Linked DNA regions of Homo sapiens. The protein of the gene in region 6 purifies or fractionates together with the protein of the main gene of each other region. This does not show direct contact. Each region holds a gene or a part of one and is shown on either strand. Other genes may lie near its edges. The genes, in order: USP5, GCDH, SUCLA2, CALU, TXNDC5, BCL2L14 and COPB1.

Region 1 (3,500 bases), 5.2 Mb from region 6:
GGGGGCCTGGGGAAGGAGAGGGCACTACTCACTTCCTCTGGAAGTCAGGGATGCTGAAGAGCACCTGGACCACAGAGTTGAGGTAGCAGCTGTTACCCAGGTTCCGGATGCCTGTGTAGCCAGGCCCAAACAGGGGCTTGAGTGGCACACCTGACTCCTGGATCAGCTCCCATTCACCAATCCGCTGGTTCATGTCTATCTCCAACTCAGTCATCGTCTTGTCTGTCTGTGTGAGAAGGGGCACTTCAGACTGAGTGAGAAACTCAACCCTGTAGTTTTTACCTCGATCTCTCACTGAGTCTAGGATGATACTCAACTGTGGCCTAGAATTTGTGGAATTACAGGCTCAAACATGGGAGGTATGTTGAGTATCGTCCAGTTCAAGTTCTGGAAGGCCACACATAATTGTCCCAGAGGCCCGTTAGTCATCAGGGCCTCTGCTTGAATGAGGAATAAAATTTCCTTCTACCTGAAATGTTTTTCCCATCCTTAAGTTACCCCTAACCTCCTTCACATTGTCAGTTAAGCATCGCTTCCTCAGGGAAATGTCCCTGATCCCTAAACTAGGCCAGGCCACCCTGCTGTCAATTACTGTAGTACCCTCCGCCTCTCTTTCACAGTGCCCACCAGTTTGCAACTATTCACTTATTTATCTGGGAATGTGACTAATGTCTGCCTTTTCTTCTAGAGTAGAACTCTTGTAAGCAAAAACCACATCTGTCTTATTCACACAGCCTCTAGCACATAGTAGGTACTCAGTACTATTCACTGAATAAATGATTTTAGATATTTAAAAGAAGCCTGTGTATCTTGGGGATGGGGTTAACTAGAAGATTTCTCCAAAACCCTACCTCAGCCTCAGGCAAAGAGGAAGGGCCCTCACAGGGGCAGGAAGTAGAAGAATCTGAAGTTGAAGGGGGTCTCACCTTCTGCATCTTCAGCATGTCGATGCCGAAGTGGGACAGGTGCTCAGCCAGGCTGGGGTCCAGGACCATGTCATCCTCATCATATGAGTACACGTCTAGAGCAGGAGGCAGGAAGAGAATCAGGGGAAGTGGCTCAGGACTAGCCAGGCCACCATCCCATCCCTTGCACAGAAGGGACTTGAGGGGACAGAAGGAGAGCCAGTAAGGTCCACCCTCTTGGTTCCCTTGAATATGAGTAATATGAGTGCGGTCATGGCCCTTCTGGGGCTGACGGTCAGGGAAGACAGATGAAACCGGGTGAGGGTTGGAATTACTTGTGATTCTGATTCTACCTGTATAGGATAAGGTAAGACAGGCTTGGTAGGAAAGGGATGAGGATTTGAGTGGGGAGTAATCAAAAATTTAGTCTCATCTGCAGTATTTTCCTTTTTTGAGACAGGGTCTCTGTAGCCCAGGCTGGAGTCCAGTGGTGCAATCATAGCTCACTGCAGCCTCAACCTCCCGGGTGCTCAAACAATCCTCCTGCCTCAGCCTCCTGAGTAGGTGAGACTACAGGCAGGAGCTACCACACCCAGCCAATTTTTCTTTTTTTTTCTTTTTTGGAGAGATGAGGTCTCACTATGTTGCCCAGGCTGGTCTCGAACTCCTAGGCTCAAGCAATTCTCCTGCCTTGGCCTCCCAAAGTGTTGGGATTGCAAACATGAGCCACCGCACCTGACTACTTTCCTTTCTTATCAAGATAATGCATTCATGTATTATACATGTCACACGAAATTACTAACAAATGAAATATATTTAAGCATGAGAGTGGCTGGAGGAGGGGAGGCTGTACCAGCTCCATCAGGGGTGATGGTGCCCAGCTTGACAGCTAACGGGTAGCCTGTCTCTCGGTAGTGCTCCACAGCGTGGTTGTTGCCCCCACTGCCATCGAAGTAGCGTCGCCCACAGAGGATGGAGCCATCAGTCAGGTTGAGCCACAGGTTCTCTCTCATGTCACACTTGGAGCACTTCCAGCCACTAACCCACAGAGAAGAGAATCAGCAGAAATGTGGGTCGGGGATTTGAGGGAGTGGCAGAGAGAGAGGGCTCTGCAGGCCCCCCGCCAATCCAAGGTCTCTCTCTCTTCTCCTCTGGCCATCCCCATGTCGTGTTCATTTCCAAGCTTCCCTTCCTGTCCTGCTCCCTACCCTCTCTCCCACCAGATCCCCCAGAAAAGTGGGCTCCTTGTCCTTGCTCTGGGGGTGGTGCCCGAGGCAGAGGGGCCAGGCCTCACCAGGGAGGGATTCGAGCAGGGTTGTCCAACTGCTTGAGGCTGAAGGCATGCTTAGACACCTGCCGTACTTCCCCATCCCATGCCTGCACCTCCTGCTTGCGGGAGGCTGAGTCGGCCGACAGTAGGGCCTCCACTGCACTGGTCACCTGGGGGAAGCAGAGGGTCAGAGGCAATACCCAACCCCCTGCCCCACATGCCCCTCTTCCCCTTGGCCTTCAGCTTTGTCAGTGCTTGCCTAAGACACCACTACCCTGGCCCATCTTGCTCTAGAATCTTGGGTAGCATAGGGGGCAGTCATACCCGATCTCTGACAATGTCAGGCAGTCCCCCCAGTCCATCCCGGGCAATCTCCAGGTAATCTGGCAAAATGACAATCTTCACATCCTCGTCTAATTCAAACTTCTCCTCGCTAAGGTCAAATCCGCCTTCAACACCTGGAAGGATAGGGAAGAAGAGGGAGAGTAGAGCAATGACAACAGGTCAATGTCCCTCCTCCGAGCCAGCACCTCACTTGCCCCATCCAGAGTTCTAGGGCCATCAATCAGGCCCACTCTTTGGGGCTTTCCTGGTGCTGCTGAGAGCCAGAAAGACCAGCTCAGGGAGAAGAATAGGACTGCAGCGGTGCTCACCAATAGCCAGCCGCGTGGGCTTCTTCCGGGGTGGGTCTCCAGTGCCTGTAGCAGGGTCCTCCTCTTTCTGTAAAGAAGCAGGAAGGGCTGGATCAGCAATGAGCACGAGCGAAGGAACAAGTCGGGAGGAGGGACGGAAGGAGGTAGTGCTTCATCTCAGAACGGAATAAAGCTAAAAAACATCTGTGCCAAGCTTTAATGACACAAAAGTAGGTGAAAAAAAGAAACTGAGTCCAATAGGAGGTCAGAATGGAACAGACAATGTACCCAGGCCTTGCCCCAGCCCTGCTCCTACCGGGCGCCGGGTCCGCCGGAGGTGCAAGTAGACTCGCTGGCCGGTCTTATTGAAATGTCTCTCCACATACTGTTTCCCAAAGCCCAGAAACGTGTTCATACAGATGTAGAGGCCCCCCTCAGACTCCTGTGGGACAAGAGGTAAGGGTGAAAACACGAGGATGTTATGAAGCCTGGTCAGGTGAGGAAACCAAAACCTGGAGTCAGAAACTGCTGGGTTCCAGAAGAAATGTTCTGTTCTCTAACACTGTGTGGCCCTTGGCAAGTTATTTAGCCTTTTAGGACCTGGGACATAGCTAAGATTCTCCCCATTTCCTCCCATGACTTTGATAACAACCAACAAGGACATCAGGGGGCTGAGGAACACCAGCTCATCGT
Region 2 (3,170 bases), on a different chromosome or scaffold from region 6:
CTGGCCAGTGGGACACCAAACTGCATCCTACATGGGCAATGGCAGGGTAAGAGCGAGGGGAGGCCCACTCTCCCACCCCGTCCCTGTCCTGGGGCCCCCTGCTCCAGGACGCCTTCCCAGGCTGCCTCAGTGCCCCCAAGCTTGCCCTGGCCCTGCCGTTGACTCAGCCCACAGCTGCTCAGAAGGACGTCACTGGTCATTCCAGAGCAAGGAACTCAGGCCTGGTGGGTGGGGGCTGGGGAGTCACCCATGGTATAGAGAGTGAAACCCAAGCTGCCCCACACCCCCAGAGAATCTCACTGCAGCCCTCACACACCTGTCGAGGGCGTACTGCCGGGCTGTGTGCAAGCAGAACTCCGAAGCTCCAAGCACGCCCCACGCGATGCCGTACCGGGCGTTGTTCAGGCAGCCGAAGGGACCCTGTAGGGTTGAGATGGCGCCTCAGGCCCACCCAAGAGACACCAAGAGGGCCTATGCAGAACCAACTCTGAAGCAGGGAAAGCCTCCTCCCCAGCCACCCCACGCAGGGGGACTCAGGTTGTGGTTCACATCACAGATGGCCCTGGCACTGAAGCTCGGTGCCTGCTCACTCGGTTTGCACACAGTCCCACCCAGCCTGGCATCTGGGTTCGATGCTCAGAGCCAGGAGGCTGACGGATGCCAGAAGATGCACTGTGAGTCAAATGACTGAGCTGGTTCAGGCCCATGTGTCCCGGGCAGAGCCGGGATGAGCGAGACGGTCACCAAATGGGGGCAGTTTTCAGCACGTCAGCGAGTCCGGCTGAGTAAGAATCACCACTGTGTGGGCTCCACAGGCACAGGGAGCCGCGTCCCCAGCACGGAGCCTGCCTGACAAAGCCGCATCCGCAGGTGACCCAACACCCATTCCCAAAGTGGCTGCCACTTACCCCCAGGCTGGATGCACCAGGGAGCACATTCTCCTCTGGCACCTCCACACCGTCCATGATGATCATGCCTGTGGCTGAGGCCCGCAGCGAGAACTTGCCCTGGATCCTGGGGGCCGAGAGACCCCGCATCCCCTTCTCCAGCAGGAAGCCCCGAATGCAGCCATCTTCACACCGAGCCCACACTACAAACAGATCGGCCATAGGCGAGTTCGTGATCCTGGGGATGGAACAGTCGGTGAGGGGTCTGACCAGTGCCCCTTTGCCCCTGTTCACCACCTGCCCACCACCCAGAACCCTTACCAGGTCTTGGTCCCATTGAGGGTGTAGCTCTTGTTGGATGAGTTGTAGTGGGCTCTGGTCTCCATGCTGCTGGGGTCACTTCCGCTGTTGGGCTCTGTGAGCCCGAAGCAGCCCAGGAGCTCCCCCTTGGCTGCAGGCACAAGACAAAGTCACAAGGCTGCCTGGTCCCTGATACATCCCCTTACTCAAAAATTATCCTCGTGGCGGGGTGCAGTGGCTCACGCCTGTCATCCCAGCACTTTAGGAGGCCAAGGCAGGTGGATCAATTGAGGTCAGGAGTTCCAGACCAGCCTGGCCAACATGGTGAAACCCCATCTCTACTTAAAAAAAAAAAAAAAAAAAAATAGCCAGATGTGGTGGTGGGTGCCTGTAATCCCAGCTACTCAGGAGACTGAGGCAGGAGAATCGCTTGAACCCGGGCAGGAGAGGTTGCAGTGAGCCAAGATCATGCCACTGCACTACAGCCTGGGCAACAGAGCAAGACTCCATCTCAAAAAAGAAAAAAAATCCAGCCTGACCAATATGGTGAAACCCCATCTCTACTAAAAATACAAAAAATTAGGCCAGTCGAGGTGGCTCACACATGTAATCTCAGCACTTTGGGAGGCCAAGGCAGATGGATCACTTGAGGTCTGGAGTTCGAGACCAGCCTGGCCAACATAGTGAAACACCATCTCTACTAAAAATACAAAAATTAGCCAGGCACGGGTAGCAAGCACCTGCAATCCCAGCTAATTGGGAGGCCGAGGCACAGGAATTGCTTGAACTGGGGAACCGCAGGTTGCAGTGAGCCAAGATTGTACCACTGCACTTCAGCCTGGGGGACGGAGCGGGACTTTGTCTCAAAAAAAGAAAAAAAAAATTACCCTCGCCCCTGAGTCAGACCTCATAACTAAGTTAGATCTGGCCCTGCTTTCAAGAGACAGGTTACCCCAAAGTCATGATCACAATGCCAAGATGGGGAGGGGGACCCAGGGAATCAGGAAGGAGTTGGCCAAACTGGAAGGGTGTGAGGAGTTAAGCAGGAGGAGGCTGTGGGGAAGAGCAGTGCTGGGAGAGGGAACAGATGTGTAAAGAACTGGTGGTACTTCTGGAGAATTTCAAGTAGCTAAGTCTGGCTGGGAGGATCACATGAGTGGCCAGAGATGAGGTGGAAAGGTCAGCAGAGGCCTGGTCACACAGGGCCTTGTGGGTTTTTTTTTTTTTTTGCGAATCTGATCTTATTTGTTACTCAAAAAATCTTATTTCTGACTGGATTCAGACTTAGAAGTGGAAGCTCGCAGAGAGGACAGTCTGCGTCTCTTCACGATTTGTCCCTGGTGCTTCTTAGCCTCCTTCATTCTCTTGGCCAAAAGTTTAGCATATTCTGCAGCCTCTTCTTTATTTTTCTTAATATGCGGCTGCTTCAGAGCAATACGCCGCTGTTTGTGCTGCAGGACATGTGGAGTGACAAGGCGCTGAATCTTGGGTGCTTTGGTCCTAGGTTTCTTACCTTCTTTGTTTAAGGGCTTTTTTACAACATACTGGCAGACATCATTTTCTTTAGAGAGACTGAAAAGTTTACGGATTCTGCTAGCTGTACTGGGCCCCAGGTGACGAGGCATCATAGTCTCAGTCAGTCCAGGAATACCCTTCTCTCCTTTTTTTTACAATAACCAAGTTGAGAACACTCAGATTGGCATCCACGATGCAACCATGAACTGATCTTCTCTTTCTTTCTCCAGTTCTCCTTGGTCTGTAATAGGAATGCCCCTTACTCAGTAGCAAGTGGACACGGCCATGGGTCAAGACACCCTGTTTCAAGGGGAAACCTTGTTTATTGTTCCCACCACTGATTCCGACCACGTAACCCTTCCATTCTTCACCCAGAGCGTCAACAGCAACTTCTGTGGCCATACGCTTCTCATAAAAAGTACAAAGTTTGCGTTCATCGTCCACTTCAATGAGTTTCTGGCAGCCAGT
Region 3 (3,500 bases), on a different chromosome or scaffold from region 6:
CCTAGGCCCTCCTGGTTGCTCACTCTGTTCCAACTGCACTAATCCCCTCACTATTCCTGGGCATGTTCCTGCCTTCAGGACTTGGCTCTAATGCACCCTCTGCCTAGAATACTCTTCACCAGGTGTCCATGTGGGAAAAGCCCCCGATCCTTCAAGTTTCTCTTTAAATCTCATGTTGCCCATGAAGCTTACCCTACTAACCTGCCCACCTGTGACCAATCCCCCTTACCTACTACACTTCTTTCCGCCATAGAATTCATCATCTTCGTACATATGTAATTCTCTTACATATATCATTTGTTGTTTTGCTTCCCCATCAGAAAAGAGGCCCAGGAGGGCAGAATCTTTGTTGTATTCATAGATGTTAACAAGCGTCTGGGAGAGTTCCTAGCACATAATATTTTGCTGAATGTTGAAAAAAAGGAACATTTAAAAATATGAACAGAATTCTTATAAATCTAGATTTCTTCACTGCTCTTACGAAAACTCCCAATGGGAAAAACTGGGTGCACAGTACTACAACTAGAGCTGATTAGAAAAAGTATCTTGTTTAGATAAGACAAACCCTTTTCAATTACCCTGTCTCTACTATTCACAAATGTATCACAACTAATATTAGGTAACAAATAGAAACAACTCAGAAATTTCCTTAAAACCAACAATAACGTTCTTATTGAGAATACTACAGGTTGTCTCTGAACCATGGCAAATTAGAGAGTTTGTGCCCAAACGGAAGGGAGCAGCCACTATTTATTCCACTTGTTTCTGTTTACCTGTCCAGTCCTGATTTTCCAGCACTTTAAATATTTGTTTATATCCGAAGAAGAGAACTACAAGGCAAACAGTGCAAATGTAATGTAAAAAATGGTCATAGTTACACTGTGCTTTACTGAGCTAAATTCAATCATTCCTATTCATTAAACTGGGAACTTAACACATTGACCTATTAAGAGTAACGAAGCTCTATTTTTTCAAAAACACTTGGCAAGACAGAAGGTTCTTCTCTTCCCCGCAAAGTGTCAATTTCCTTTCTTTAGGAATATAAAGTCTTTAAGGGCAAAAGATGATTCTTCGAAAGTTCCTTCTAAAAAAAAAAAGCCCTTCACAACGAAAGCAAAAAAAAAAAAAAAAAAAAAATTTTTCATGAAATACAGTCTCATCAACTATCAAGAAAGGAAGAAAGATTAGAAGAGAAGTCTGAGGACAACTGGTCGAAACAAACATTTTATTCAATTCCATTAATTCACTCAACAGGTTCATCTACATACCAGACACTGTGCTAGCGTTGTAGATACAACAGTGAGTGAGACCTCTCCTGCCCTCATAGAACCTGCAGTCTTATTACATTTGGCACTGCTCTAGTCAGACAAGATCTTTTTTGGATCCCAAGACTGTCTCTAAAACACAATCACTATCCCAGCTACCTTTAGTCACTCACAAACATTTTAAGCATTCCTTGTATACAGGTATCTAACTAATAAATATTTAAAAGAAAGAAAGAAGGTAAAGTCCTATTATATGCCATTAGAAATCTCCCTCCGGGCTGACATTCATTAATCAGCACCCTTTACATGTATCTATTCAACCAGATAGGGATTCCACCTTAAATATACTAGAAGCCAAACTATCTTTCTATAGTCAATAGGGAAATTATAAAAATTCTGCCAAATCTGTGCCCAGGCGCAGTGGCTCACGCCTGTAGTCCCAGCACTTTGGGAAGCCAAGGGTGGGTGGAAGGCTTGAGCCCCGGAGTTTGAGACCAGCCTGGGCAACATGGTGAAACCCCATCTCAAGAAAAAATACAAAAATTAGCCAGGCATGGTGGAGCACACCTATAGTCCCAGCTACTCAGCAGGCTGAGACGGGAGAAGTGGCTTGAGCCCAGGAGGTCGAAGCTGCAATGAGCCATGATCACACCACTGCACTCCAGCCTGGGTGACAGAACAAGACACTGTCTCAGAAACAAAACAACAAACATTCTGCCAAACCCTTACTAAAATCATATTTCCTTGAACTATGAACTGTTAGAGATAATTTGCTCTCAGAACTGACCCCAAATAATATCTACTACATTTATCTGTGCTAATAACCATCCCTTTGATAATCTATTCCAGAAACTTCATGATCTTCAAGCTCACCAACCTTCATTTTGGGGACTCATATAGTCTTTTAAAATATTAGAATTAGATTTCTTTCTAACCATTCCTCCATTCCTAACCTCAATTATTCACAGCAGGTAAAACTTGCCTACAGGACAATGCCTCTCAACTTTTTTCACATCATCACACAAACAGAAAATGATGGACATGGTAGGAAATACTGGGTAAAGAGGCTCAGTGGCCCCAAACCCCATGCTAACTCAACTTCTCCTGCCACCACAGGACTGGGAAGAAACAATAGTTTGGCACACCTGTAAAGCATTTATGTTCTATTATGTCACTTGTTGAGCAAAGCGCTGAGTTAAGAGTTTTTATGAAGGCCAGGCCTGGTGGCTCACGCCTATTGTAATCCCAGCACTTTGGGAGGGTGAGGCAGGTGGATCACCTGAGGTCGGGAGTTTAAGACCAGCCTGATCAACATGGAGAAACCCTGTCTCTACTAAAAATACAAAATTAGCCGGGGTGGTGGCACATGCCTGTAATCCCAGCTACTCAGGAGGCTGAGGCAGGAGAACTGCTTGAACCCAGGAGGCAGAGGTTGCTTGAACCCAGGAGGCGGAGGTTGCGGTGAGCTGAGATGGCGCCATTGCACTCCAGCCTGGGCAACAAGAACGAAACTCCGTCTCAAAAAAAAAAAAAAGAGTTTTTATGAAATGAAAATTAGCATTTTATGAATTTTGCAGAAAGTCAAAAAGCAAAAATCACCCTGAAGTAATGAAAACTCAGCATTGGGAATTGCTAGCTACATGAACAAAACCAAGTGTATTTCTAAGGTCCCTCATTCTACACCTTGTGCAACTAGATCCCATAATCGTTATCTTTTGTTATCAATGACTCACTAAAAACACAAAATTGGGCTGGGTGCGGTGGCTCACGCCTGTAATCCCAGCACTTTGGGAGGCCTAGGCGGGTGGATCACAAGGTCAGGGGTTCGAGACCAGCCTGACCAACATGGTGAAACCCCGTCTCTACTAAAAATACAAAAATTAGCTGGGCATGGTGGCGGGCACCTGTAATCCCAGCTACTCAGGAGGCTGAGGCAGGAGAATTGCTTGAACCTGGGAGACGGAGGTTGCAGTGAGCCGAGATCGCGCCACTGCACTCCAGCCTGGGCGACAGAGTGAGACTCCGTCTCAAAAAAAAAAAAAAAAAAAAAACCACGAAATTGTCCTCCATATTTTCATAGACGTTTCTAAATTTATCTTTTAAAAACTAGCATTTCTGCTCCTCTAGATTTAAATTTCCTTGTTAATTATTAGTCTCCCTCCCACACTATAATCATCATTTGCAATATTCTTTGACAAAAAACACACTTTCTAAATGAACAAGGTATCTGTTCCA
Region 4 (3,500 bases), on a different chromosome or scaffold from region 6:
AACAGTAACTCATACTCAGACATTAAGTTACAATTTTCTAAAAGACAAAGTTGGTTTGATTTTTGTTTTTTAATTAAACAAATATCTGAGAATGAAAATAAAGAGGGTGAAGGACACCTCGGGAAATCATAAACTTTATAGGGATCCAATGTGCCGTTTATTAGCCCATCAAAGACTTGGCTTGTGCCAGGTCAGTAGGGCACAGATAGTTTTTAAAAATTAAAAGCAGTAGAGATGAGAAGAGATGAGAAATCCCCCCATGCTATGTTCTTCTGGTAGCAAGATAATGCAGTTCAAGTTGGGTCTTGCAGTACTTGGTACTTTTATGCAAAAATGATGCTTTGTAGAATGAGGCACCAACTGTTATTCAATTAAAAATGTATGAAATCAGGCATTTAATGAAATTTTAGAGGTAGTAATTCCATGGTTAGCTTTCAGAAGATGTATTAATAGTTCAATATAACTTTACTCATAACTGAGCCAGAAAAGAAAAGAATTAGCCTTTATAAAGAATGTCATTACCCACACTAGACCCCTGAGAGGTGGTACCTTACCCAAGCCTTTCCTTGCTCTCTTCTGGTGTCAGCTGATCAAAGGTCTTTGCTTCTTCAGCACCCAAGAAGGCATCATGGTCATAATCAAAACTCTGAGCATCATTGTGAACCTTGTCACTGAGCTGAGGCTCATGATGTACACGGTCCTTCTTTTCTGTGGGTTTGCTCAAGGCAAAGGCTGTGCACAGGGACAGGCACATAAGAAACTGTCGCAGGTCCATGATAATTAGATCTTGAAGAAAATGAAAAGCAGTTAATTCAGGAGGCAGTATGCTTAATAACTAAATAAGAAATTAAAAGCTCACATCCGAGTTAAACTATTAATTTGATATACATATCTATGCAAGTCTTTTATATTATCCCAAATATTACTTCATCCATAAAATAAGTATGGTGGAATATCAGACTCTTCAATTATTACAGTGAGAAATTTTTACCAGTTTCCTTCATCTGATTGTAGGCTGATAAGAAACTTATAGTTAAAATGTCCACTTTCTGTTTTCTTTCAAAAGATACCAAAGTAGAATTTTAATCCTTTTGCCCAAGTTCATAAGAATTAAAAGTGAAAGAACCAAGGTTTAAATGTTGACTCCAAATCCTTTACTTCTTGTACGCATTGGTGGTCTGGTCTTCAAACATGGCTGGTTATTAGAATCATCTAGGAAGCTTTAAGTTTCTCCTATTGATTTAGAGTCTCTGAAGCTGAATTCAGACATTCGTAGCTTTAAATGTTTTTCAGGTGATTCTGATGTTCATGAGATTAGGAACCAGCGAAATACTTGGCAGCTTCCTTGGTCTATAGCACCAAGTCTCCAACATCCAGGCTCAACCTTGAGTCACCTTCAAAGGCCAAATCATTCAGATGGTCTAGTCATAGATAAGAACGTCTTTATCCTTCTGCACAGTTGTTTCCCATACTTGCCTAGGCATAAATACCACCTGTAGTACTGTTCAAAGTACAGATTCCCAGGCCCTGATTCAAACTTTCAGAATCTCTGTAGTCACAGGTGACTCTAATGAACAAGCACAAAGCTGGAACACTTGACTGAAAAATGTGACAAAAAACCTGCAAAGAAGCTGCAGAGTACACATCTGTTTAGCACACTCTACTGATACCCCGTGATACTATCCAGAGTGGTTAAGGTCTTAGAGGGAAAAAAAAAAATTAAAAATCAAGAAGAAGGGTTTTCAGGCTTTTACATTTTTTCTTTCATCACTGGGAAGGCAGCTCAGTGGGGGAGGGTGGGAGGTCCTGAAATGGCAGAGGAGGACATATCAGTAGAGAGTGGAAAGTGTTCTAGAGTAAATACGACAACACAGTAAGACAAACAGAAAAGTACCTAAGGAGATAATGGGGGCGGGGGTTGGGGGGCAGTCATTCCCAAGTGCCCCAGTCTCAAATAAGGTACTGTTACTGATGACGTGAAGGTTAAGACTTAGGAAAATCCATCAGAAGAAGCAATGTGAAAGCAAGACCATGAAACCCATAGAGAAATGGGTAGAAGATGGTACTTATTACTCTATTCCTATCAATGTTAGAACTTGGCTATGTTTCTCAACATTGTTTCATTCAATCCCATCAAAATACCCACATTTACAGACAAAGATACTTGTATTAAGATGTTCAATGATGACAGTTCACAATGATTAAAAAATCGGAAAACAAATAAAAACAGAGAATTGGTAAAATATATTAAATCTCGATTATGGAAAAATACACAAAGGTTAAAAAGAATGGGCCGGGCGCAGTGGCTCATGCTTGTAATCCCAGCACACTGGGAGGCCGAGGCGGGTGGATCACAAGGTCAGGAGATCGAGATCATCCTGGCTAACACGGTAAAACCCCGTCTCTACTACAAATACAAAAAATTAGCCGGGCGTGGTGGTGGGTGCCTGTAGTCCCAGCTACTTGGGAGGCTGTGGCAGGAGAATGGCGTGAACCCAGGAGGCAGAGCTTGCAGTGAGCCGAGATAGCACCTCTACACTCCAGCCTGGGCTACAGAGTGAGACTCCGTCTCAAAAAAAAAAAAAAAAAAAAAAAAGAATGACATGAGGCCGGGGGTGGTGGTTCACGCCTGTAATCCCAAGACTTTGGGAGGCTAATGCAGGCGGATCACTTGCATCCGGGAGTTTAAGACAAGCCTGGGTGATAGCGAAACACTGTCTCTACTAAAAATACAAAAATTAGCTGGGCATGGTGGCATACACCTGTAGTCTCAGCTACTCAGGAGGCTGAGGTGGGAGGATAGCTTGAACCCACCAGGTGGAGGTTGCAGTTAGCTGAGATTGTACCACTGCACTCCAGCGTGGGTGACAGAGATCCTATCTCAAAAAAAATAAAAAAAGCAGCCAGGCATGGTGGCTCATGCCTGTAATCCCAGCACTTTGGGAGGCCGAGGCGGGAGGATCACTTGAGGTCAGGAGTTCGAGACCACCCTGGGAAATACGGTGAAACCCTGTCTCTACTAAAAATACAAAACTTAGCTGGGTGTGGTGGCACACGCCTGTAGTCCCAGCTACTCAGGAGGCTGAGGCACGAGAAGTACTGGAACCCGGGAGGCAGAGGCTGCAGTGAGCTGAGATCTCACCACTGCACTTCAGTGACAGAGCGAGACCCTTCCTCAAAAAAAAGAATGTAAAAAAAAAAAAAGAACGAGATGCATCTATCTGCAGTGAAATGGAAAATTCACCAAGATATGTCAAGTGAACAAAAAAAGCAAGGTTCAAAACAACGTCAAGATCTCATTTACATAAAAAGCAAAACAAAATTAAACAATCTCCCCAGCTTGTTTTTATTTGTATAAAATATAACATGCACATAAATGGTGTGCAAAGACAAATACCCATGTGTAAACAGTGGTAACCTCAAGGTTCATGGGAGAAGAGACAGGAATGGGGTGGGCTGGTAAGATTGGTGTGAAAGTGAACTTTAATACTGTATCCTGC
Region 5 (2,886 bases), on a different chromosome or scaffold from region 6:
TAGACTGATTACACTGAGGTGAGGCTACAAGGGGTGTGTAACCGTGTAACACGTGAAGGCAATGCTCACCTCTTCTTTACCAGAACGGTTCTTTGACCAGCACATTAACTTCTGGACTGCCGGCTCTAGTACCTTTTCAGTAAAGTGGTTCTCTGCCTTTTTACTATACAGCATACCACGCCACAGGGTTAGAACCAACGAAGAAAATAAAATGAGGGTGCCCAGCTTATAAGAATGGTGTTAGGGGGATGAGCATGCTGTTTATGAACGGAAATCATGATTTCCCTTGTAGAAAGTGAGGCTCAGATTAAATTTTAGAATATTTTCTAAATGTCTTTTTCACAATCATGTACTGGGAAGGCAATTTCATACTAAACTGATTAAATAATACATTTATAATCTACAACTGTTTGCACTTACAGCTTTTTTTGTAAATATAAACTATAATTTATTGTCTATTTTATATCTGTTTTGCTGTAACATTGAAGGAAAGACCAGACTTTTAAAAAAAAAGAGTTTATTTAGAAAGTATCATAGTGTAAACAAACAAATTGTACCACTTTGATTTTCTTGGAATACAAGACTCGTGATGCAAAGCTGAAGTTGTGTGTACAAGACTCTTGACAGTTGTGCTTCTCTAGGAGGTTGGGTTTTTTTAAAAAAAGAATTATCTGTGAACCATACGTGATTAATAAAGATTTCCTTTAAGGCAGAGGCTGGTCGAGATGCTGCTGTTATCTTCTGCCTCAGACAGACAGTATAAGTGGTCTTGTTTCTAAGATTCCTACCACCAGTTACTTTGGGCCAAGTATCCACATCCCCTTGCGTATGGGAGGTGGGTGAAGAGTGTTGGATGCAAAGTGGTTATTATGGGAAGTAGCTCGATGGTAAAAGGACAAACACCTATCTATCTTAGAGCTTAAGCCTGTATGTGCTTATTCCCAAGGGAGATAGAGGTGTTTAATCACAAGGACAGCATGAGTTAGAGGACACTGGCATCAACAGCTGCCACAGCCGTGCACACCAGGGCCAGAGCAGCCCACTGACATCTGTCTTTGGTCTTGAGATCAAATGCATCCCATTCTTCATACATTAGAAGGTCGACCTCCTTGAAGCAGACCAAGTATAGCAAGCCTCTAAAAGGACTACTGAGAAACAGAATCAGAAACTCTAGAACTCTAGTTAGGGCCCTTCAGCAGGGCTGCAGAGCCTCCCTGGATACCCAGGCCTGGGAAAGCCTGTCTGGTCTTGTCACCCCAGGTGACAAATACAACTGGAATCTTTCAATGAGTTAATGAGATACTGAGAATGAGCCTCGTGGAATTTTCCATGCCTACCCTTTCTAAGGAAGACATCCAACAGTTCATGTGGGCTCTGGCTTCGTGTTAACATGAGGAACTAAAGACATGTTTCACCCCGTGAGAAACAGAAGGATCCCCTGAACAGTAACTGATTTGACAAGTATCGACACATAAAGTTATGGCATCAGCATTCTCTTACTCAGGCACGGTCAGAAGTAACGCTGCTTTCATCACGGCTAACCTCTCACACTGAGAGAAGTATTCACAGCAACAGAAGCTCCAGCAGCGGCCGTGAAGGTATCTTCCAGAGGTGTGGGTTTTTGCATTTCAATCTGCTCCATGCTACGGACCAACACAGTATTGAGTCAACTGTGACCTTAAGATCAGAGGAACGTCAATACTGCCACAAGGCCACCTTTCCAGAACTCGTGGGCAGGTAAACTATGCTTTGGATGTGCTTTCTTTCACCAAAATCACTCAACTCAGGAGCCACAAATAGTCCAGCAATTTCATTTCCCTCAACGCTATTTTAGTCTCAAAGGAAACCATGTAAATTTCATCAAGAGAAGGTCAAAGGGGATATATCGCCACTGAAAATGTTTACACAGTGACCATGAGTTACACATTTACTTAGAGAAACTTAACTTAATAAAGAATCTGTAGAGTGTGTTGGCTTGGAAAACACACACACAAAGAAGATACCTCACGCTTAGTATGTTCTGCTTTCTGAACAGCCACCACTGGGAACCCAGTGGCCTCTGTGGGACTGAACTCCTAAACGCAGGGTGCGGGAGCTGGGCAGGAGAGGTGACCTCCAACTGTGTTCCTAAAGTTCGTCTTTCGCTTGGCTCAGGACAAAGCGGTGTAACGAGTCAAGGTCTCTGCCTCCACTGTGCTCACTGACTTTCTTCCCTCCTCGGAAAAGCAATAACGTGGGGTAGCCTCGTACCTTAAAACAAAAAAGAAAAAAGTTTGCAAACCAGCGGTCCAGATCACATGCAAATTGCTTCCTAAATAAAACCAGATACACTCCTACCGTTGTGGCTGGAAAAATTCTGTGGCTAATTTTTAAAGGTGTATATTCCATTAAAACAGGAGCAGACTACTGTTTAGAAAGCACAGCCGTGGGGCTGTGTGTTCACTTCTGAATTCAAAATGACATCATTAAAGATCAGCCTCAAAGGAACGACTTTACCCTAAAGCAGACGCTTTCAGTCTTTACTGTGCACACGATCACCTGCGGATCTGCTGAAGGTGCAGATTTGGATTGAGCAGGCCTGGGAGTCTGCATTTCCAATGACCTCCCTGGCGATGCCCTGGTGGTCTGCAGACCAGACCATGAGAGCAAGATCCTCTTGAGGATACATGTTTCAGTGGCAACTCGTTTCTAAGAATTTTAGGGCACAAAAAACAACTGGTATCTTTTAATGATAAGGAAACTATGTCTGGGTTACGTCTATTCTCCATCTAAAGGGCTCCAAAAGTGTCTGAATAACAAAGAAGAAAAAAAATGACAAATCTTCCAGGCCATCAGACTGTGCTAACAGCTTGGAATGAAGGCAGTAGTTAACCCAAGCACAGGACC
Region 6 (3,500 bases):
AGCAGTCCATAAGGAAGTCACACCCCAACCCCCTGCCCTTTCTCTTTAAAACAAATGCCTCAGACCACAGGCGAAATGGGACCTTCCGACCCTGTTGGCCTGCTCTTCCTGGCGCCACGATGACCCCCAAAACAGACTCCAAGGAACAGACAGCCTTTCTGTCTTCTCCCCACCCCATCCAGTGTTCCCTCGCCTATCAGACAGGACCAAGTCTGACAAGGATATAATCTTTTCTTTTTCATGTTTTAAAATTAAAATATCCAAGATGGGAATTTTAACTAGAGCTAGTGCATCTGTGGGAACATGTTTGCTTATAGTTTCTCCTGGACATGTCTCACTCCATGTCCACAAACCCACAGAAATCAATACCCTGCTGTAACCCCAGCACTTTGGGAGGCTGAGGCAGGAGGATCACCTGAGGTCAAGAGTTCAAGACCAGCCTGGCCAACATGGCAAAACCCTGTCTCTACTGAAAATATACAAAAATTAGCTGGACGTAGTGGCGGGAGCCACTACGTCCTGTAATCCCAGCTACACAGGAGGCTGAGGCAGAGAGAATGGCTTGAACCCAGAAGGTGGAGGTTGCAGCGAGCCGAGATCGTGCCATTGCACTCCAGCCTGGGCAACAGAGCGAGACTCCGTCTCAAAAAAAAAAAAAAAAAAAAAGTCAATACCCTGTACACAGTTAGCCAGATTGAGTAATTTTGTACCTGTTGGTGATCTTGTGGCCACCCTGCCTTATGAGAGGAGGAGGGGACAGAGCCTTTGGGACCCTTCATGGAGCTTCTTAATGTGCAAGATGGGCACAGGGTGCTTTCTGGTGGTAGAACCGCATGCTGATTACCCTAGATGAGCTGCACAAGGTTGAAAAGGCAGCAGAGGCCTGCTTTCCTTTCTCATCTCCTGAGGACATGGCCAGGGAAGTTTCCCTTGGCTTTGGAAGATAGCCTCTTGCCATTTCTTTCTTTGCCAGGGGCCATGGGTGGCCAGAGTTCCAGCGGAGGCCGGCTGGGCTGCAATAAGGGGATTACAAAGTGGAAAGTCTGTTTCGCTTGGTTCTTAAAAAACGAGGAGGAAAGACATTGATCCTTTTCTTCTTGATCTTTCTTCTCTCCGTCATTCGCTTCTTATTGGTTTTTGAACCCTGTGGACTAACCATGGAAAAGATGGCTTTATGAGTCAGATGTCCACCAGAGGATGGCATCATGGACAGAGCAGTATCTTCTGTGGCCTTTCCGTGAATGGCTGGAGGGCTGAAGGGAGGACACTGAAGCCTTCAGCTTGGAGGAATCCAGGGAGAGGGATCAGGAGCCACCTTGGCAGCTGCATATGATGTCAAAACCTGTTTCTCTTGTGGCTCAGTCCCTCCCAGGCCCCCTACTTGCCTCTCTTACCTCCAGTGCTGTACAAAGCCCAGAAGTGCCCTAGGAGTTTGAGCACACCAACCTTCTGTCCAAAACGCCACTCCATTACTGTCTTCAAGTCCTGTGAATTACCTAATGTTAGTCTTCAAATGTTACATGGTAAAACCCAGCTGCTCCACACGGCATCCAAGACAGCTTGTACAAGCTTTTAAAAGTTTAGGATTTAGGTTGGGTGTGGTGGTGGCTCATCCTTGTAATCCTAGCACTTTGGGAGGCTGATGTGGGAGGATTGCTTGCGCTTAGGAGTTCAAGAACAACCTGGGCAACATAGGGAGACCTTATCTCTAGAAAAAGAATTTTAATAAATTAGCCAGGCGTGGTGATGCACACCTGTCATCCCAGCTACTCAGGAGGCTGAGGTGGGACAATCGCTTGAGCCTGAGAGATCCAAGCTGCAGTGAGCTGTGATCACACCACTGCACTCCAGCCTGGGTGACAGAGTGAGACTCTGTCTGGAAAAAAGTAAATAAACAAATAAAAGGTTAGAACTTAGTGACAAATCAACAGTGAAAATTTTACCACCCAGCAACTCAGCCATGCCATCTGCCCACCCCACCTCCCCTCTTCCCCACTCAGGGGCAAAGGCGACTGGTCTCTTATAGGCTACAACACTCACTGGGCCAATGCCATTTCACCGTCCTATCTCAAAGTGCTTTATTCTACAATTCTGTATGCAAATACATGACGTAACTCTTTTCTCAGCTTGTAAATTCTTGAAGGCCGTAAGTTGTGCTGACTGCATCCTTGTTTACCTATAAGCATTCATTGAATGTTTTCCAGTAGACATGGAGAGGAGAGAAGAGGCAGAACTGTACCAGCAACGGGAGTTAGGTGTTCACTTGATAATGGACTTGGATGATGAATCTCATTGCCCTGAGAGCAGGGATATTTCTTTCTTCAGTGACCAACCCCGAAATGCTTGTCAAATTATCGAATGTCCTCCTATGCATGTAGGGGCTGGCTCTTAGAGGTATAAAGCATGTCGAGAAAAAAGAATAAAAATAAAAGCATAATGAGCATTCCTTCAAGTAAAGAGCTAAGCACTCCTTTTTGTGTCTCTTCCCTTGCAAAGGGGAAAGGAGACCCTAATTTTGCAAGACTTCAAAAAGAGTGTGCAGAAGGCCAATTGTTTCAAGGTGACAATCATTCCTGCATGCACCCCTCCCACATCCCGGCCTCTGCCAGGCAACTTTCAGTCCTTTCTGAAGAATGACCCTCCCCCAGCACACATACTCCCAGGCAGTTTCCTTCTATTCTGGCCTGGTCTTTTCATTCCAGGCAACTTTGCATACCAATGAGCCAGATGAAGTTCTGGGAAGGGCCTCTCAGCACCATTTTGTCTTGTTTCAGCTGTGGACCCCAAAGTCATTTCCATTGCCAACCGAGTAGCTGAAATTGTTTACTCCTGGCCACCACCACAAGCGACCCAGGCAGGAGGCTTCAAGTCCAAAGAGATTTTTGTAACTGAGGGTCTCTCCTTCCAGCTCCAAGGCCACGTGCCTGTAGCTTCAAGTTCTAAGAAAGGTAAGCTTTCCTTCCCTGGGTGGAGTGTTTGCCAGGCAGGGGCGCAGGAGCATTTGTGTATTTATCCATCCCAGGGCTCGGCAACTTGACAGTCTCCGCTGCCTGGACTGAGGGCTTGACAGCCACAGGCTGTGGGCAATGAGCTCCAGCTTGAGACACCAGCCCAAGGCAAGGGGGCTGCCCCAGCAGGTTGAAAAAACATTCCCAGCTCTCTGCTAAGTAAGAAAGGAAAGTCTCCTACAGAGGGAGAGGAGGAAACACAAAGCCCGCATTCAGCCTTGTCTGTGGCGGAAAATGCAATGTTAGATCTGATCATGTTACCAGTGACCCTGGGCCAATTTGCATCAGGTACAGTTGGAGCGTCAAGCCAGGGATTTATATTATAACATTGCTTTAGGGCTTTGTGAAAAAGCAGGGGTTGTCAGGCACCAGCTATGGTGCAAGACATGGAGCAGAACTGAGAAGTAGTGACAAGGCTGGGTCAGTTGTCACCCAAACCATAGCAATAGCTGAGACTGTAGATCCCATCAGGCTGGTGGTAACTCAAGGCAC
Region 7 (3,500 bases), on a different chromosome or scaffold from region 6:
GAACTGCTAAGGGCACTCTGAGTTGCATAGGTACCCATTTCAGTAACCAATTTCTGAACTGGCCCTACAGTTATTTCTTCTTCAGGTTTTAATTCACCAGCTTCTTTCTTTATTTCTGACTCTACAATTGGGATCTAAAAGTCAATTGGAAACATCATTTTAGTAATAGTATCAACAGCAAGCAAAATTATCTTTAAATATTTGATTGTTTCTCTAAAAAAGGCATTACCCTAATGGGATTTTTGGAACTGGGAACTCTGCTTTCAATTTATTTCCTTCCCAGGATAATGTAGTAGGTAGAATAGGGGCTTCAGAGATGGATATTCCAGGGTTTGAATTCTCACTCTGCCACTTACTACTTTGGACCTCAGTTTCTTAATCTGCTAAGTGGAAATCTTAATTCTTTCTACACATTTTACCTAATAGAAAAATGCATTGGACAGTGTCTAACACAAAGCAGATGGTCATTAAGTCGTATTCCTCTTCTTCATTCCTTTCCTTGAAATTTTAACCAAAACAGTACTCATCCTTCTAAAATGAAATAAATCCGACTTATTTGTACATAATAACCTCATCAACTAACTTTTAAATTAACTGAATGGCTATTATGTATTTATTACTCAATACCAGTCCATTACCTAATATAAGAGCACTAAGAGTATTTAATCATTACCTATTTTAATTTATTTTATAGGTGAAAAACACTGATGTCAAGTTAGGTTGAGGAACTTATATTCAAGGTCCTCCAGCTAACTGTCGACACAACAATGACTAGAACTAATTGTCAGGTCTCCTGATAATTAGTCCACTGTTCTTTCTATTCTACCATAAGGTTGTTAGGATGAAGAATACTGTCAGTTTTACTGCATAAATATTCTGAAGTCAGACTTACTCTAAGGCATTCTTCCTTCAGAATACAGGCTAAAGCAGAATTTTACAAGCTACTGCTTCTTTTTTTTTTTTTTTTTTTTAATAAACACAGAACATTTTGTTCAAACAAAATCTAACTCAGAAGTGTAAATAATGTAAGCAAATCACTATAAAAAGTCAGATTTTCCTAAAGGAAAAATTACCATATAAACTAACATTTACTAAAGTAAAACATACCTCTCCAAGGGACCTGCGGATCTCAGTCATCACACTCTGAATGTCTTCCTTGGTACTACAGTATTCTCCCAGGATCCATAATGCTCCTCGGTAAATCCTAGCACAATACAAGATCTGAAACATGAACTTGGCAGACAAATCTTGAAGCAGAGATCTTTCTTTGTTAATTTAAGCTCAAATAAAAACAAGGGCCAGGCACTCACGCCTGTAATCCCAGCACTTTGGGAGGCCGAGGCGGGCGGATCACGAGGTCAGGAGATCGAGACCATCCTGGCTAACATGGTGAAATCACGTCTCTACTAAAAATACAAAAAAATTAGCCGGGCATGGTGGCGGGCGCCTGTAGTCCCAGCTACCCGGGAGGCTGAGGCAGGAGAATGGCGGGAACCCATTCTCGGGAAGCGGAGCTTGCAGTGAGCCAAGATCGCGCCACTGCACTCCAGGCTGGGTGACAGAGCGAGACTCCGTCTCAAAAAAAAAAAAAAAACAAGGGCCAGGCACGGTGGCTCACGCCTGTAATCCTAGCACATTCGGAGGCTGAGGCCAGCGGATCACTTGAGCCCAGGAGCTCAAAACCAGCCTGGGCAACATGGTGAAACCCCATCTCTACTAAAAATACAAAAATCAGCCAGGCATGGTGATGCACATCTGTAATCCCAGCTATTGAGGAAACTGAGGCATAAGAGCTCCTTGAGGCCGGGCACAGTGGCTCACGCCTGTAATCCCAGCACTTTGAGAGGCTGAGGCGGGCGGATCACCTGAGGTTGGGAGTTCAAGACCAGCCTCACAAACATGGTGAAACCTCGTCTCTACTGAAAATACAAAAAAAATTTGCTGGATGCAGTGGCACGCACCTGTAGTCCAGATACTTGGGAGGCTGAGGCTGGAGAATCGCTTGAACATGAGAGGCGGCGGTTGCAGTGAGCCGAGATCGCGCCACTGCACTCTAGCCTGTGAGACAGAGCAAGACTCCATCTCAAAAAAAAAAAAAAAAAAAGAACTGCCTGAATCCAGGAGGCGGAGGTTGCAATGCCCTGAGATAGCGCCACTGCACTCCAGCCTGGGTGACAGAGCAAGCTTCTGTCTCAATAACAAAAAAACAAAAAACAAAAACCAACAAGATTCTGCAGTTCTAAAGTATTTTAGATAAATATTTCAGAAAGAATCTAACAAAACCTAGGTTTCAGTTCTCTCCAGAAATCACAAAGATTAAAAGTAAAATAACTGTTCTTATTATTAGGAACATTCTAAAACTGGTAAACCTAGCAGTAAAAATAAAATACCAAAATGTTTCCCAGTAAAGTGTCCATTTAGGACACAGTGAAGGCAAATTTGGCTTAATCTCTTACTACTCTAAGAAATGTATTATTTTATGGCCAGACACTGTGGCTCACACCTGTAATCTCAGCATCTGGGGAGGATGAGGTGGGAGGATTGCTTTAGTCCAGGAGTTCGAGACCAGCCTGGGCAACAAAGCAAGGCCCTCATCTCTCTTAAAAAAATAAATAAATAAAGTAAAAACAAAACAAAAACAAAAACAAAAAATCAGGAATGTATTATTTTAATGTAAAAAGTAATTCACTTTTTATTTTCAGTCACTGAAGAGGCAAGGTGTTGAACTGAACAATGGATACAGAAGAAGTACAAGGGATCAGTAAAAAAATAATAGTAAAGAAAGCAACCATTCATTCATTCATTTAGATTAAAAAAATAAATAGAGACAAAGTCTCACCATGTTGCCCAGGCTGGTCTCCAACTCCTGACATCCAGCAATTCTCCTGCCTTGGCCTCCCAAAGTGCTGGGAATACAAGTGTGAGCCACCATACCCAGCCAACAATTCTTTAGTTTAAAATGTTAAACTGAATAAAGTCCTTAGTCATCTTTCCCCTAAGATTTTAATTAAATTTATTCAGAAAAACTTAATTATAGAAACCAAAGCTCTAAGAGATTATGGCTGTCAAAAACAAATTCTTAATGTCATAGCTCTTTTAAAATTTGTTTAGCAGGCTTTCTGGTTTTTGCCGGAAAGCCCTCTCACAAAAAAAAAAAAAAAAAAAAAAAAAGCAAATCCTTAATATGATTTTCTTCTCACAAAGGAAGCAAATCCTGCTCTGCTCACTTCCATAAATATTAATATATTTTCATATCATAAAAACAATTTTGTACTTGTCCCTTCCTTCCTGAGACATATTTCAAGTCTGTTAGAGACTATCCATCAGATGCTTTAAATGAAGCAAAATTTAGATGCAACAGTCCTTTCTCATTAGCAAAGGCTCTCTGAAGGGAAAGACAGATTTAGGTTGCATTTTCAATCTTTCTCTTCATTAAATGTGAAAGGAAGATATAAATAATAGTAATAGCCAAAAAGTGATGCCATTTAAAAATATGCTCT

The links.
Region 1: the proteins of BCL2L14 (region 6) and USP5 purify together in Homo sapiens (affinity purification with mass spectrometry; one large-scale study listed by BioGRID and IntAct). This does not show direct contact.
Region 2: the proteins of BCL2L14 (region 6) and GCDH purify together in Homo sapiens (affinity purification with mass spectrometry; one large-scale study listed by BioGRID and IntAct). This does not show direct contact.
Region 3: the proteins of BCL2L14 (region 6) and SUCLA2 purify together in Homo sapiens (affinity purification with mass spectrometry; one large-scale study listed by BioGRID and IntAct). This does not show direct contact.
Region 4: the proteins of BCL2L14 (region 6) and CALU purify together in Homo sapiens (affinity purification with mass spectrometry; one large-scale study listed by BioGRID and IntAct). This does not show direct contact.
Region 5: the proteins of BCL2L14 (region 6) and TXNDC5 purify together in Homo sapiens (pull-down; one large-scale study listed by IntAct). This does not show direct contact.
Region 7: the proteins of BCL2L14 (region 6) and COPB1 purify together in Homo sapiens (affinity purification with mass spectrometry; one large-scale study listed by BioGRID and IntAct). This does not show direct contact.

The regions. Positions count from the first base shown.
Region 1 is NC_000012.12:6,855,150-6,858,649, reverse strand, and holds part of USP5 (ubiquitin carboxyl-terminal hydrolase 5), read right to left. Parts: intron 3,296-3,500; exon of another isoform or gene 3,250-3,295; coding exon 3,124-3,249; intron 3,022-3,123; exon of another isoform or gene 2,896-3,021; coding exon 2,829-2,895; intron 2,634-2,828; coding exon 2,500-2,633; intron 2,346-2,499; coding exon 2,200-2,345; intron 1,944-2,199; coding exon 1,759-1,943; intron 1,022-1,758; coding exon 927-1,021; intron 227-926; coding exon 33-226; intron 1-32. UniProt on the Homo sapiens protein: Deubiquitinating enzyme that participates in a wide range of cellular processes by specifically cleaving isopeptide bonds between ubiquitin and substrate proteins or ubiquitin itself.
Region 2 is NC_000019.10:12,894,160-12,897,329, reverse strand, and holds part of GCDH (glutaryl-CoA dehydrogenase, mitochondrial isoform a precursor), read right to left. Parts: exon of another isoform or gene 2,419-3,170; intron 1,339-2,418; coding exon 1,209-1,338; intron 1,126-1,208; coding exon 909-1,125; intron 421-908; coding exon 317-420; intron 28-316; coding exon 1-27. UniProt on the Homo sapiens protein: Catalyzes the oxidative decarboxylation of glutaryl-CoA to crotonyl-CoA and CO(2) in the degradative pathway of L-lysine, L-hydroxylysine, and L-tryptophan metabolism. It uses electron transfer flavoprotein as its electron acceptor. Isoform Short is inactive.
Region 3 is NC_000013.11:47,991,274-47,994,773, forward strand, and holds part of SUCLA2 (succinate--CoA ligase [ADP-forming] subunit beta, mitochondrial precursor), read right to left. Parts: intron 1-3,500. UniProt on the Homo sapiens protein: ATP-specific succinyl-CoA synthetase functions in the citric acid cycle (TCA), coupling the hydrolysis of succinyl-CoA to the synthesis of ATP and thus represents the only step of substrate-level phosphorylation in the TCA.
Region 4 is NC_000007.14:128,745,859-128,749,358, reverse strand, and holds part of CALU (calumenin isoform a precursor), read right to left. Parts: intron 1,807-3,500; exon of another isoform or gene 1,005-1,806; coding exon of another isoform or gene 992-1,004; intron 787-991; coding exon of another isoform or gene 776-786; coding exon 555-775; intron 1-554. UniProt on the Homo sapiens protein: Involved in regulation of vitamin K-dependent carboxylation of multiple N-terminal glutamate residues. Seems to inhibit gamma-carboxylase GGCX. Binds 7 calcium ions with a low affinity.
Region 5 is NC_000006.12:7,881,017-7,883,902, forward strand, and holds the end of TXNDC5 (thioredoxin domain-containing protein 5 isoform 1 precursor), read right to left. Parts: intron 2,251-2,886; coding exon 2,128-2,250; 3' UTR 501-2,127; downstream 1-500. UniProt on the Homo sapiens protein: Protein disulfide isomerase of the endoplasmic reticulum lumen involved in the formation of disulfide bonds in proteins. Can reduce insulin disulfide bonds.
Region 6 is NC_000012.12:12,084,439-12,087,938, forward strand, and holds part of BCL2L14 (apoptosis facilitator Bcl-2-like protein 14), read left to right. Parts: intron 1-2,774; coding exon 2,775-2,948; intron 2,949-3,500. UniProt on the Homo sapiens protein: Plays a role in apoptosis.
Region 7 is NC_000011.10:14,475,812-14,479,311, forward strand, and holds part of COPB1 (coatomer subunit beta), read right to left. Parts: intron 1,205-3,500; coding exon 1,108-1,204; intron 135-1,107; coding exon 1-134. UniProt on the Homo sapiens protein: The coatomer is a cytosolic protein complex that binds to dilysine motifs and reversibly associates with Golgi non-clathrin-coated vesicles, which further mediate biosynthetic protein transport from the ER, via the Golgi up to the trans Golgi network.